Linked DNA regions of Homo sapiens: regions 1 and 2 are each linked to region 3. Evidence: fine-mapped expression QTL. A gene starts in region 3. Each other region holds a variant in brackets. All regions are shown on one strand. Distances are between the middles of the regions.

Region 1 (5,271 bases), 960 kb before region 3:
CATCAAAATATCACTGTTATTCTTCACAGAACTAGAAAAACCAATCCTAAAATTCATATGGAACCAAGAAAGAGCCCACAGAGCCAAAGCAAGACTCAGCAAAGAGAACAAACCTTGAAGCATCACATTACCTGACTTTATTCTACAAGGCTATAGTCAGCAAAACAGCATGACACTGTTATAAAAATAGACACATAAACCAATGGAACAAAATAGAGAACCCAACGATAAAGCCAAATATTTACAGCCCACTAATCTTTGACAAAGCCACCAAAAATTGGGAAAAGGATACCCTATTCAACAAATAGTGCTGGGATAGTTGGCAAGCCACATGTAGAAGAAGGAAACTGGGTCCTCATCTCCCACCTTATATGAAAATCAATTCAAGATGGACCAAAGACTTAAATCTAAAACCTGAAACCATAAAAATTCCAGAAGATAACATTATAAAAACCCTTCTAGACATTGGCTTAGGCAAAGACTTCATGACCAAGAACCCAAAAGCAAATGCAATAAAAACAAAGATAAACAGATGAGACTTAACTAAGCTAAAAAGCTTCTGCACAGAAAAAATACAATCAGCAGAATAAACAGACAACCCACAAAGTGGGAGAAAAATTTTGCGATTGATAAATCTGACAAAGGACTAATAACAATAATTTACAAGGAACTCAAACAAATCAGCAAGAAAAAAACAAACAATTCCATCAAAAAGTGGGCTAAGGACATGAATAGACAATTCTCAAAAGAAGATAGACAAATGGCCACCAAACATATGAAAAAATGCTCTTAATCAGTAATTATAAGGGAAATGCCAATCAAAACCACAATGTGATACCACCTTACTCCTGCAAAAATGGCCATAATCGGACCGGGCGAGGTAGCTCATGCCTGTAATCCCAGCACTTTGGGAGGCCAAGGCAGGTGGATCACGAGGTCAGGAGATCAAGACCATCCTGGCTAACACGGTGAAACCCCATCTCTACTAAAAATACAAAAAATTAGCCGGGTGTGGTGGTGGGCACCTGTAGTCCCAGCTACTTGGGAGGCTGAGGCAGGAGAATGGCGTGAACCCGGGAGGCGGAGCTTGCCATGAGCCGAGATTGTGCCATTGCACTCCAGCCTGGGCGACAGAGCGAAACTCAGTCTCAAAAAAAAAAAAAAAAAAGAATGGCCATAATAAACAAATCAAAAGATAATAAATGTTGGCATGGATGTGGTAAAAATGGGAACACTATTACACTGCTGGTGGGAATGTAAACTGCTACAGTCACTATGCAAAACACTGTGGAGATTCCTTAAAGAACTAAAAGTAGAACTACCATTTGATCCAGCAGTCCACTACTGGGTATCTACCTAGAGGAAAAGAAGTCATTATATGAAAAGACACTTGCACATGCATGTTTATAGCAGCACAATTCACAATTGCAAAAAATATAGAACCAGCCCAAATGTCCATAAATCAACAAGTAGATAAGAAAATTGTGATATATATACATATCTATGTGTATATATATATATACATATCTATGTGTATATATATATATACATATCTATGTGTATATATATATATACATATCTATGTGTATATATATATACATATCTATGTGTATATATATATACATATCCGTGTGTATATATATATACATATCCGTGTGTATATATATATACATATCCGTGTGTGTATATATATATACATATCCGTGTGTGTATATATATATACATATCTGTGTGTATATATATATACACATATCTGTGTGTATATATATATACACACAGATATGTGTGTATATATATATACACACATATATATATAAAAAGAATGAAATAATGGCATTCACAGCAACCTGGATGAAATCGAAGACCATTATTCTAAGTGAAGAAATTCAGGAATGGAAAATCACACATCGTATGTTATCATTCATAAGTGGGAGCTAAGCTTTGAGGATGCAAAGGCGTAAGGATGATACAATGGACTTTGCGGACTTGAGGGAAAGGGTGTGAGGTGGGTGAGGGATAAAAGACTACACATTGGGTACAGTGTACACCGCTTGGGGGATGGGTGCACCAAAACCTCAGAAATCCTCACTAAAGAACTTACTCATGTAACCAAACACCATCTATTCCCTAAAAAAATTATTGAAATTTTAAAAAAAGAATCAAGAAGAACGGAATTCCTCCCTCCTACCACTGAATCTGCCTCCAAACTGCCCTGCACTTCCTGCGGGTATCTAGGAGCTGTAACACGGCACTATGTTCAAAATAAGCCATCCTACAAAAATTTCCCTGGAGAGATTTTTTGTTGTGTCCTTCTGTTTTCTTTTTCCAATTTTGTGTGGTTGTTGTTGTTGAGCATGCTTTTTAGTTCTTTAGTTTCATAAATAATAATGTGTTATTTTTTAAAAAGAAAAGTCTCACCATGAAAATCCAGGTTCAATACACCTACAATATACCCACAAAATTAAAATCTAAAAAAGAAAGAAAGAAAATCCAGGTTCTGGAACTAGAACACAGTTGATTCTTGACCTTGTTGTTTCTCTGTAAATATACCATCGGTCTATGATTAAAACTGACCCAAGCTGGTATTTCTACAAGGATAGAGGAATCTCAATGGTCTCATTTTAATGATGTGTTGGAAGGGGAAGGCGAAAAGATTAAAATCTCATGGACAGATATATTGTAAAAACTGATTAAAAATTACTATTTTACAATTTGATAGTATAATCTGATTATGGATTCTGTCTGTGAGCCATAAAGGCAAGAGGCTACTTTATGTCCACTCTTCATAATGAGGAAAAGCTCATTTTAAAAGTTGTAAGCAAAAGAGAGGACTTAGGTTGAACTCCTGCTGAATTTTGATCTACTTTCATTGATTTTGAACTTACATTAGTCCTTTCATTCTTCCATATATGAGCTCTATTAAATGCCCATTTCTCTGTCCAAGGGTC[G/A]GGGTGAGGCCTGGATATGTCCCAGATGGGATTTAGTCTGGACATAGAAGCTCTTCTCTGTCACACATTCTCCCTCCCATAGCAATGATGTCCCTGAGGGAGGATTGTTTTCCATGACTAGTGATAAAAGGCTCAAGCCTATACTCCTTACACTGAAAATCTGGAAAGAGGAGAATCAGGATGAACAGTACAAGGAGAGTTAACTTGAACTTTTCATTGTAAAATAGTTAAAATAATAAAATTTTCTTTCCATGAAAATCAAGACACTTTTGCTTATTTGTCTATACTCACTTACTGACTTAATTTGAAGAACAATCAAGGGGGGGGCAGGAAAACTAAACTAAACCCTAACTTTTTAGGGTGAAAACATCACACTATATATTGCTCAGCCTCCACCCTTTTGAGAGCTATCACCACCTGAAGAAAGTAGAGATCTCTCAACTCTTTCCTCTCTGATTCTTCCCCAAAGCAGCAAGGGAAGGTTCACAATACTGTGTGATTATCTTTCAAAAGCAAATCCAGAACATAAATGTGGTCTACGGATGGTTCACTTTTTGTGGTCCCTTTTCTGTCCAGGAATCAGAGGTGGCTCATCAAATGAGGAAACAAGGAATGCTTTATTTCTCAAATTACACACCATTTTTAACAAAATCCATAGGAATGATGAGGATGAAGAAAAGAAATAGTCTAAACTCCTCTTGTCAACCCCCAAGTTCCCATCACCAACACTGATGAACAGCTTTCTTGATCTCTCCAAAGTCAAAATTTCTTTGTCTACTTCTTGCTCCTGACATTGCTCCACCTTCTCTGAGGGTCTGGTCTCATGTGGGAAGCTATGAAATTCCAGCTCTTGCTGAGCATCTCAGACAGACTCTGGCTTTGCTGACAGTTCTTTAAAAAGGCAGCTAGCTTTCCCTGCACAAACCTGGGAGAGACTGCAATCTGGAACAAAAATGGAAATAGAACATTTAATACAGATATATTGCTCCTACACAACTAGGCAAGTCAAAAAAATAAATTTTAAAAATATTAACCAATACTGTATGCAAATTTTTTCCATGATAGCCTATGGAGGTGACAGGATAAAGTGAATAGGTAAAAGACCTAGGATTTGAATAGGATTGAGGAATGGAGAAAAAAAAATGTCTAAACATTTCATGGTTTCATTTTAGGCCAAACCAGAATTTCCCATGGGTTACAGTAGCTTTGTCAAAATGGCCACACACAAAAAATGAGTTGATTGCTTTTATGGATTAAGGGCAGGCAGCAGCAGTACAATTTCACTGCATTTTTCCTACCAAAAACCCGGAGAAAAAAAATCTCCCTAACATTACCAAGCCCTGTGAGCAGAAAATCCCACTGTCTTACAATCCAGGCATCACGGGAGTGAAACCTCAGAATCTGAGCCCCGAAAACACTTCTGGCAGTGATAGCAAGAGAGAACATCAAACCCAAAATAGGCAACAAATTTATCTGGGAAGCATTCCAACATCCAGATTCAGAGAGAAAGGGATCATTTCAAATATTCTGAATGGGAGTTGGATTCTTATAGAGTATTTAAGAATTTCAAAGTTACATTAAGTATAATCTCTATTTTACACTCAGACTCTCTCAAGGATCCTAACTCTCTGGCCTTTAGACAGGAACACCTCCCATAGACAGAGGCTACTGGTGCAAAGCTCCTTCCCTTGCCACGCAAAGGCTCCTCCTGCTCCAGGCTGTGCAGTAATGGGCTCTGCAGAGCCTCTGCTGGAGATCATCAATGGTTTGTCACAATCAGCACACCAGGGTTTCTAATTTCAAAGTGCAAATTTATTTCCAGCATTATAAACAACTGCCTTTTCAAACTTAAAGTCTACTTAGGACATACCGATCTTGCAAAATACTAGGGATACAGGAAAATGGCTGTGAAACTAAAATGATTTTTAGGAGAAAAGAGTGAAAGGGAAACTTAACATGACTCTGCATTTAAGAACGTTCCTGTGCTAGAGAAAAATTGAAAGAAGACCCCGGGTGAGAGTTTTTGTCCCATCTCAACTCCCACAAATATCAGTGAGGATTTTGTTTTACCTATTTATGATAAGAACAGATAATGCCATAATCCTTCAAAATCAATATCTGATTGCAACATGTTCCTTGTCTTAGATTTTCGGCTGGGGTCATTGCTTACTTCCTCAAGGAAGGCTCCCAAACTCTCATAACCCTTAAAACTAAAGGTCTATGCACTGCTGAAAGAAGAGGAGTAACATAGTTATCTAGGCCCATGAAGTCTATTCCTGCCCCAAAGAAAATTCACCACATCCCCTTTCCACACTTGCCACAA
Region 2 (5,271 bases), 23 kb before region 3:
TATAGCCATATGATGGAATATTCAGCAATAAATGAATAATAATCATTTATTAGTACCTGAAGTACTATTACATGGTACAACACAGTTGAACTTTGAAAACATTATGCTAAGTAAAAGCCAGTCACAAAAGACCATATATCGTTATGATTCCATTTATATGAGGTTTCCAGAACAGGCAAACCCATATAGGCAAAACTGGTTGCATAGGACTGACAGATTTGCAGTGAAACGGGGAAGTGACTGACAATGGGTACGGGATTTGTCTGTAGGGTGACAGAAATGTTCTAAAATTGATTGTGGTAATAACGGTTATACAAGTCTCTGAATATACTAAAAGCCATTGAATTGTACACTTTAAATGAGTAAATAGTATGGTATGCAAATTATCTTAAGCTGTGAAAAAAGAACAAATGAAGCTGTATAAATTATTCCTCAATTGTCTAGAATAATCAAAATAACACTGGATTAGCTCTTTTGTGGTTAGACAAAATTTGGCAATGAAACTATCTGTCCCTAAGGCCTTTTTCATGTTTCATCTTTCATTTTTCCAACTGTTTCTGTGGTATTTGTTTTCTTACTTCTCTGTAGATTTTGGTAATTTTCATTTTCATAGAAAAATCAAAATAAAACTTCCTCTGAGTTCCAAATCTGTTACCCTAAAGTACATGCAGCATCTTCTTTTTTTTTTCTCCTTTTTTCTGAGATGGAGTCTTGCTCTGTAGCCTAGGCTGGAGTGCAGTGGCGTGATCTCGGCTCACTGCAACCTCCGCCTCCCAGGTTCAAGCAATTCTCGTGCCTCAGCCTCCCAAGTAACTGGAACTACAGGCACAAGCAACCATGCCTGGCTGATTTTTTTGTATTTTAGTAGAGATGGGGTTTCACCGTGTTGCCCAGGCTGGTCTTGAACTCCTGAGCTCAGGCAATCCACTCACCTCGGCCTCCCAAAGTTCTAGGATTACAAGAGTGAGACACTGTGCCCGGCCCATGCAGTATCTTCTTATTCTGTTTTGTATATCTACGGTGATGCCTCTTTTCCCACTACTAATTTTGTATATTTTACTCTGTTTTTCCCTTCTTCCAGCTGATGAGATGCTTAGTAATTTTAACGGTCTTTTCAAAGAAACAGTTTTTTAATTTATTCTTTCCACTATTACATTTTTTAGTCTTTCACTAATTTCACATTTATCTTTCTTTCTTTTTAGTTTCTTTTGGCTTATCTTGATATTCCTTTTCTAATTTAACATGAGTACTAAGTTCCTTTATTTTTCACATTTGATTTTTTTAAATGAGAATTTTTTATGGCTGTAAGTTTTCCTCTGAGTACAGATTTTGCTGTTTCCCACTGGTTCTGGTATGTAATATTTCTGTTTTCATGATAGTTTATAATTTCAGTTGTTATTATTCTTTTAATTCCTCCTGTTAATTTGGAAATTCTATTGTTTTTCGACCATTATGGTTACACTCCTTTTTCTAGCACTCAAAAAATTTTCTGAACTATTTTATGAAACTATTTTATGAAATTTATGAGACATCAATAATCTCACAGAAGCTTCCCTTGCACTAAGATGCTTTATTTCTTCACTGCTTTCCCTCAAACTGTCACTAAAATACGAACTTTAGGATATTTTTATTCTCCTCACTCAAACCTATGAGACTTGTTTTCCAATTTCAAAGTTTTACTGAAAGAATTCGGTACTTGTAATTTCACATTATTCTTTCATTTTAGTATTTTTTTTTCTATTTTAAAAATCTATATTTAGTACATTATTTCACACACATAGTCTTATAAACACTGGGGGGGAAAATCCAAATTACTACCTGTAAAGTTCTATGGGAAAGATCCATGAGTTTCCTCTTGTATTGTGCAATTTTGGCTACAGATGTAGTTTGATTCTTTTGTAGCTCACTAATATCTTCAGATATGATCTGTTTAAAAAAAAATTGGGGGGGGGAGGGTTAATCAAATATCACAACTATTTATCAGTTACACCTGTATGGAAATTCTAATCTTGGGATAAGCCTGAGATTCATCTCTCAAAATATAAACTCTTTCCCTATAAATCTGTGCTTTATATTTCTTCCCTTTTTACATACCTAAAATTTTTTTAAAAGAATCATGCAAAGATATCTTTAGAGCTCTAGGAAATTTAGCAATGAGGCAATACATAGAAAAAATAAGCTGGGCGTGGTGGCTCACACCTGTAATCCCACCACTTTGGGAGGACGAGGCAGGCAAATTACTTAAGGTCAGGAGTTCAAGACCAGCCTGGCCAACATAGTGAAACCCCGTCTCTACTAAAAATACAAAGAAGTAGCTGGGTGTGGTGGCATGCACCTGTAATCCCAGCTACTTGGAAGGCTGATGCAGGAGAATCACTTAAACCTGGGGGATGGAGCCGAGATCGTGCCACTGCACTCCAGCCTGGGCAACAGAGTGAAACTCCATCTCACAGAAACAAAAAACAAAAAACAGAGTGAGACTCCATCACACACACACACACACACACACACACACACACACGGCTGGGCACAGTGGGTCACTCCTGTAATCCTAGCACTTTGGGAGGCCAAGGCAAGAGGAGTGCTTGAGACCAGGATTTTGAGACAAGCTTGGGCAAAATGGCAAGACCTTGTCTCTACAAAAAATATAAAAAATTAACCAGGTGTAGTGCTACATGCCTGTAATCCCAGCTCCTTAGGAGGCTGAGGTGGGAGGATCACTTGAGCCCAGGAGTTTGAGGTTGCAGTGAGCCGTGATCATGCCACTGCACTCCAGCATGGGCAAGAGGGAGAGGGAGAG[G/A]GGGAGAGGGGGAGAGGGGGAGAGGGAGAGAGGGGGAGAGAGGGAGAGAGGGAGAGGGAGAGAGGGAGAAGAGGGAGAAGAGGGAGAGAGGGGGAGAGAGAGGGAGAAGAGGGAGAGAGGGGGAGAGGGGGAGAGGGGGAGAGAGGGAGAGAGGGGGAGAGAGGGAGAGGGAGAGAGAGGGAGAAGAGGGAGAAAGGGGGAGAGAGGGAGAGAGGGAGAGAGGGGGAGGGGGAGGGAGAGAGAGAGACAGAGAGAGAGGGAGAGACCTATCTCAAAAGGAAAAAAAGAAAACACATACTTCAGAAATAATTAAGGAATCTGAAGTAACATGGAATACAGCCAACAACCAGGTCTGAGTGGAAAAAGTTAAGATGTGTAAGATGATATCTAGGGGGTGTCTTAATAGACAATTAGCCCTGTATCTAACTACTGACAGCAAGTACAGTACATTTCAACATTAACTGTTACAGAATACTTGGAGGGAGTAATCAGAGTGCAGAGGAAAAGGAATGATATTAATTATGCAGCAGGATACATTTTTATGCCTCTGGATCTTTGACTTGCTGTTTTACCTGACTGAAATCCCACTATTCTGCCTTAGGAAGTCTTAACCTTACAGGGTAGGTTAAAATCTCACTATTTTATTAAAGCATCCCAATCAGAATTAATCCCATAATTGTCTCTATCATAATTAATCATTCTATGCCACTGGCTTACATTTACATGTTACAAGAAAGAGGTTAAGATTGTGCAAGACATATTTTAGCACATCCACCTGCACACATCACCTTTTACAGAAACTTTCCAATGCCAGGCCATGCTGAAAGGACAAAATTAGGTGGCCATGTTTTATATTACAAAACCTAGGCAATCTCCCCATCCCAATTTTGAAAAATCACCAGGGTTTTTAGATACAAGAGTACTTACAACATTATTTTCTACCAGTAATAACTAAAAAAATTAGACATGTTATCAGCCACAGTATTTATTAACAAATACTAAAACCATCTAGGAATTGATCCAAGAAAGCCATCTAGGAATTGATCCAAGAAAGAACGCATGAGATTTTAAAAGGGAATATTTTAAAATTATTTTAAAGGACATAAAAGACTGCAAGGATTAAAGAGACATACCACATTCATGGATGAAATGATTTAATATTAAAATTCAATTCCCACAAATTAGTCTTTGCATTTAATGCAATTCCAACCATAATTCTAGCATTCTGACAAATTGATTCTAAAGTTTTTATGGAAGAATAAAGACCCATAAAGACCCAGAAAACTTTGAAAAGAAGAACCAAGATTAGAGATTCATGCTACTAGATATTAAGATACACTACAAAGCCATAAGACTAAAAAAATGTGGAATGGGTGGGTATAAGAACAGACCAACTGGCCAATGAAACATAAGAGAGGGTCTAGAAATAGATCACATATATATATGCAAACAGTGTAATTTAAATTCTTTGATAATCATTGAGGAATATCATATTTTTATAGGCAATATTAAAAATATAGGGCTGGGCGCAGTGGCTCACGCCTGTAATCCCAGCACTTTGGGAGGCCAAGACGGGTGGATCACGAGGTCAGGAGATCGAGACCATCCTGGCTAACACGGTGAAACCCCATTTCTACTAAAAATACAAAAAATTAGCCAGGCGTGGTGGTGGGCGCCTGTAGTCCTAGCTACTTGGGAGGCTGAGGCAGAACAATGGCGTGAACCCAGGAGGCGGAGCTTGCAGTGAGCCGAGATTGCGCCACTGCACTCCAGCCTGGGCGACAGAACGAGACCCCCATCTCAAAAAAAAAAAAAAAAAAAAAATGGACCCACTATTTAGAGAAAAATAAATCTGAGTTCATACCACATACTTTATATAAAGGTAAACTTCATGATGACAACAAAAGACTCAAACGTGAAAGGTTAAACTCTAAATTTTTTTTAATGTAGGATACTCTCAGACTTTGGGGTGAAAAATTATTTAAGCAAATTCCCAAAAAGAAAATACAAGGCAAACATTTAATGGATATCATTACATTAAAATTAAGGATTTCTCTTCAACTACAGACACCAAAGACAGAATTAACAAAGAGATGAGAAACTAGAAGATATTTACAACGTTATAAACAGAGACTACAATCTAGAGTAAATGATTACTGAAGTTCAATAAAGAAAAAATAGGAAGCCCAGTGGAAACACTGGCCAAAGATATGAATGATTTCAGTTCTGGACAAGATGGACTAAGCATATACAACCCCAATCTCTCCCATTTAATATAGCTATAAAACTTGGATGGAATACACGGGGCAGCTATTTGGGAACTCTGGCAGGAAGATCAGGTAAGATAGGAATTTAAAGTACCAATAAACTTGTGGTGAGTTTACCCATTTTTCCCCTCAGGCGTCCCTAGTCTGGTTTCAACCCAGCCTCAAACCTGGAAATGAGCATAAATGCTGAAAGGGAGCTCCAAG
Region 3 (5,271 bases):
TGTGGTATCAAAAAGCCTTTCAAGACAAATGTTTGAACCATTAGTGTCGAATTATATTGCAGATTTTTTGGAATCTTCCTTTAATCTCATTTATTTCTGGTATACAACACAGATTCATCAATATTGCAATATAGAAAATACAAGAAGAAAAACATGCAACCATTTTATATTAATCACCTCATTCTGATTTGGAAAACTACTCAAGAGTAAGCTGCATGTTGCATGCAGGCACAACTAAATATTCTATTTACTTGTAGGTTCTACTGCAGTACTGCAAACTATAAACATTTTCATAAAAGTCACCCACAGTACTAAGCACTGTTGTAATTTCTTTTCATTATTCTTCACTTCCATAGAATAACTATGATATAATCTGAATTGGCTACGCAATAGAAACACTAGTCAGTTTCTCATCATGCTCCACAACATCAAAAATGTTTTAGTAATAGCAGATCTGCAAGTATACAAAATAAAAAGTAAACAAGAAAGTCTATCAGCCCTTTGCTGAAGGTTAACACATATAAAAGTAGTTAAAACATATTACATTATCATAACTCAAAACTTAACAGTGATAACTCCAAATGAACATGAAATCAAGCAAATACCAACAAGTTTATTTATTGTTGTTGAATTATGAGCTGGGTGGCTTTATTCAGAAACACAAATTTCAAAGTAAGATTTCTGTTTTACCCAGTGCCAATTTTAAGCAAACAAGGAAAAGTAAACACATCAAAGGACAGTGATATGTGATTACTTCGAATACATCTTAATTAAAATGCATCATCTTGTCTTTGAAGTTTTCAAATATTCTTCGAACTGTTTTCAACTCAGATGCTAGGGTGATAATCACATTGCAGTAACCAGTGAATGAACAAAATAACAAACTTCCCAATTAACTTTTAGGGAGTAAATAATGTTTATCAAATGCATATAATTGGCATGGGCACAAGAGGCATAACGTAAGAGACTATGGACGATAAATTCATATACGAGCAGCTGAAGAACAAGTTTTTTTCTACAGTGTCACTATGTAAAGTACCCATAAACCTATTTTAAATGTATATATCATTATTGTTTTGCAAAATTTCTAATGAGCTGCAAACAACCCACGTGCATATGAAAATCTTCATAATTATCTTTTTGAATGCAAAGACGTCTAGCTTACCTTTTAGAATTCGATGCTATATCACATAAAACTAAACTGCTCTCTTTGAGCATTTCCCAAAATTCCAGCAAAGAACTGGGGATTCTTTCTATAATTACAAATCTTATAGAAATTACACATCTTATAGTATCCTAATCTGCTGAGTTGACCAAAGAAATACATTATTATCATTATAACACAAGTTAAAAAACAAAACAGGTTACTGCTGTTCGTATAAGACTTGTTTCTCTTTGGAAACACAAGGACAATAAAATGAAATCTCAATGAAAGATGCAGAAAAAATGAAAAATGACTGCAGGAGTCCAAGAATCCCAGGATGGGCTTGACTGGTGGTGAGTTTATACTTTGGAAGTCCTACCTAATAATTTTAAAGATCTATTCAAAATTATAATCCAAATGCTTATCATTTGGAAGATAAGTGCACATTTAATAAAGGAACACTGTAACTTGCAAAACTTTCCTAAACCACATCTTTTAAGGCAGTAAAAACTTGATACAGATGTTTTTGATTCGAGATAAGGAAATAAATTTCCTTTCCCTATTAGACAAGTAACTGTTCTTTCCCAAACTCCAGGAACCACAATATTCTTGGACTCCAGCTCCCAACACTGGTTACACATACAACCCGCAGTATCTACCTGCACTTGCCAGACTGTTACCAAAATTGAACGGAGTCGCCGAGGTAGTAGAAACACCGAAATTCCCAATATTAAAGTTCACTGCAGGATTAGCAGTTAATCCGAAACCCCCAAAATTAAACCCACTGGCGGTGGAGTTGGCAGTCTCAAGCCCACCAAATCCTGATAGGCGTGTAGGCAAAGAAACAAAATTTTAAAAAGGGGGAGAGGGAAAAAGAAAAGAAAGCAAGATAAGGATTAGAAGAATCAGCAGGAGGTTTCACAGAAGTGAACAAACCTGGTTTTGCTCCAAACAGTTTAAGAAAGCAGAGTGGGGGTGGGGTGGGGCAGATGGAAGAAGCATGACGGATAAACCCCACAGCGAGGACCACAGGGGGCCGGGGGTGGAACTAAGGGAGTCAATGGGCAGTGCCGGTGGATCCCCAGCCCTATCCTCGCCGAGTCCGGCAGCGGGAACCACGCAAGCGTTCCCGCCCATCCAGGAGGCTGAGGTGCAGAGGGGAGGGAGGTTCTCGGGCAAGGGGAGAGGGAAGCAACCTCCAATTTCTCTGAGTAGGACTCCCCGGCAGCGGGAAGCGAACCGCTCAAGCCAGGGCCCTGTGGAAACTCACGCGCGGCAAGCGAGCTTCTAGTGGGACCCCGAGTACCCCCGTGGCCTCCTCGGGTGCCGCCTCGGCCCACTCTGCCGCCGCCCGCCCTTTTCCAATGCCTCTAAAGTCTCCGCGTCGGCGGGAGATTCCAGGATCCCCAGGTCGGAGAGTCTCGGACAGAGGGGGCGGACCAGACCCTTCCCCTTCTTCCCGGGTGAAGGTCTAGGGGGATCACTCACCCGCGGGGGCCGCGGTGGCTGCAGCGGTACCGGAGGTGCCCGAGGGAGCCCCAAAATTGAAGGCCATGTCGCGAAAGCAGGAGACCAAGTAGGTTACTCCTGCGACGCGCAGCGCGCTCCCCTTCTCAGTCCGGCCGGGAAACCGCCAGTCAGATCACCGAGTTCCGCCTCCTTTCTGACCTAGCCTAAGAGGCCGGAAGGCGCCAAGGGCGTAGGAGGTGGGTGGTTGTGAGGGAACGCCCCCAGCCAGCTCACTTCCGGTGGGCTTCACATGCTGTGGGGTGTCACTGTTAAGGTAAAATGCTGGGACGCTCGCGAGGGTGTGCCGCCTGAGAGTCCTTTAAAAACTGCCGTAGGGAGGTTCTTTGGGAAAGGTGTGCAGAGGCTGAAGTTGTTACTGTAGGGATACGCGGTAGACAGCTAGAATTTGTATGTGGTAGGGTTGAAGTTGCTGCCTCATCAACTAGCGGGCCTGGGAGGTCGGGCAGCAGGGCTGGGGTTGAGAACCCCCCCAACACCCACGAGGAGGTGGTATTTGAACCCAGTGCTGAAGGATGAGTAGACGGAGCAGAAGCAGTAAAGAGGATGCACGTTGGAAGAAATGAAAGCGAATGGAATTGTAGCAAACACGTTGCGTTTACTATGTGCCAGGCACTCTTCTAGACATTTTACATAATTTAATCAGCTATCTTATGAGGTGGGTTGCTGCTATCTCCAATTTATAAAAGAGGAAACAGGTACCAAAGGGTCAGGCTGTTTACAGAGTAAATACTCCTAACCACAGCTCTAAGGGGAGCACTGAAAAAGAGGGGAAGAGTGGGCCCCCTCTGTTGTACTTGTAATATAATTTAATCCTCAGAATAAATAAATAGAGAAGATTCTGTAACTGTATTTTGCAGGTGAGATGAGAGAATTGAGGTTTGGAGTTGTTAAGCAGCTTGCCCAAAGTCACCTTGCAGGTAGGTTCTGGAGTCTGGTTTTGGACTCATGTTTCTCCACTCCAGAGTCCCAATTTGTAAAAATTACCATTATATTATATTGCCTTGTAAATTATGGTAAGGATTTCAGACTATTTCTTGAGGGTAATGGGAAACCTTTAAGGGGTTTTAGGCAGAGGACTAGTATGACTAGAATTTTGTTTTTAGAAGATCCCTCTGGCTGCCATAAGGAGAATGGATTGGAAGGAGCCAGAATGCCTGAGGAAGATAGAGCTTTTAGGAGTCTGTTGTAGTTGCACAGGTAGGAGATGATAATGACTTGGATTACATCTGGCAGTGGAATTAGGAGAATAAATTTGAGAGATACTTAAGAAATAGCATATATGAGACTCGTAGTATTTGGACGTGGGAAGTAAGGATTCAAGGACAACCTCCTGCTTTCTGGCTTGGGCAAGTTGGTGAATGGTGGACCCGTGTCTGACTCCTACAAACTGAGTATGCTCTCATACCCACTGCCCTGCCTTCTTTCACTGTTTGTCACAGATAATTTATCAATCTAATTTTTCCTTACAATAGTATATATTCCATAAGTGCAAGAACCATGTCCCTCTTGTTCCATGCCCATCACAAGTGCCTGGCATATAACAGGGGGAAATAAATAATGAATGAATGACAGATAGGTGGAAACCAGATCTTGAAAGACCTTCCTTAGCATGTTAAGGAGCTTTGATTTACCAGCAGTTTGTCCAGCTGCGGCCCACAGGCCACATGTGGCTCATGGCTTAGGATGGCTTTGAATGCAGCCCAACACAAATTCGTAAACTTTATTGAAACATTGTGAGGTTTTTTGCGATTTTTTTTAAAGCTCATCAGCTATTGTTAGTGTATTTTATGTGTGGCCCAAGACAATTCTTCTTCTTCCAGTGTGGCCCAAGGAAGCCAAAAGATTGGACACCCCTGATTTAGCACATAGCCTAACGCTTAAGTACTTAGCTTACCTTAAAAAAACAAACAACCATTCTTCTTCTTCCAGCGTGGCCCAGGGAAGCCAAAAGATTGGACACCCCTGATTTAGCACATTGTCTAATGGCTAAGTACTCAGCTTACCTTAAAAAAACAAACAGCCCTCCCAGTCTAGCAGAAAGGAAAACCAATGATTAATTTATGGAATCTGCCAGAAGCTCAGGAATTGGAGATATCACGTATCTTCATAAGTTGGGGTAAAGGGAAGTTAAAATGAGAGGAACTGGTTGAAAGTCTATTTAAGAAGCAGTTAGAGCTCCCCAAATCCTCTTCTGACCTCGTGCAGCCAAGTGAATGCTTCTTCCCCACTCTAGAAAAATAATGGAGGATTCTTCTCTACAGTGATTAAAATAGTATTTGCCAGGCACAGTGGCACCAGCCTATAGTCCCATCTACTCGGAAAGCTGATGTGGGAGGATTGCTTGAGCCTAGGAGTTCAGCCAGCCTGGGCAACACAGTGGGGACTCCCCCCCACCCCCCGTCAGTGTAAAAAAAAAAAAAATAGTAGTGTCTCTGGACTTGGGGGCACCAGACATTATTGAGAGTGGGTAGTGCCCTACTGAATGGTGGAAGACTGAGTGGAAATGCATGCCTATACACACCTTCCCCTACTGCTCCCAGAACATTGGCAGCCAGGCCTTCGCCCTCCAGGAAGATATAGGAGAATTTTTTATGGGT

Alleles and levels. Positions count from the first base shown, and alleles are read on the strand shown. Sizes are in standard deviations (SD) of each study's normalised expression. Not every link is listed here.
In carriers of allele G in region 2, the expression in monocytes after LPS of the gene that starts at base 2,722 in region 3 tends to be lower than with A alone (large effect, 0.75 SD a copy in Quach 2016).

The links. PIP is the estimated chance that this variant, and not a neighbour inherited with it, causes the effect. A credible set is the group of variants that fine-mapping cannot tell apart.
Region 1: its variant is the best candidate, but not a certain one, in a credible set for the expression of NUP54 in whole blood (Lepik 2017, PIP 0.65).
Region 2: its variant is the best candidate, but not a certain one, in a credible set for the expression of NUP54 in monocytes after LPS (Quach 2016, PIP 0.53).

What each region holds. Positions count from the first base shown.
Region 1 is chr4:75,185,532-75,190,802 of GRCh38, forward strand. No RefSeq gene overlaps it. Among named protein-coding and RNA genes, the nearest start is that of LINC02562, 100 kb to the left of the region's middle. The variant G/A (reference allele first, on the strand shown) is at 2,949.
Region 2 is chr4:76,122,831-76,128,101 of GRCh38, forward strand. NUP54 (nucleoporin 54) reads right to left here. Exons shown (of 12, transcript NM_017426.4): 9 at 1,819-1,926. Among named protein-coding and RNA genes, the nearest start is that of NUP54, 23 kb to the right of the region's middle. The variant G/A (reference allele first, on the strand shown) is at 2,801.
Region 3 is chr4:76,145,676-76,150,946 of GRCh38, forward strand. It overlaps NUP54 (nucleoporin 54), which reads right to left and starts at 2,722. Exons shown (of 12, transcript NM_017426.4): 1 at 2,633-2,722. The coding sequence starts at 2,699. LOC124900718 (a long non-coding RNA gene) reads left to right here and starts at 2,874. Exons shown (of 2, transcript XR_007058144.1): 1 at 2,874-2,927; 2 at 3,532-5,271. RefSeq lists an enhancer at 2,672-2,831.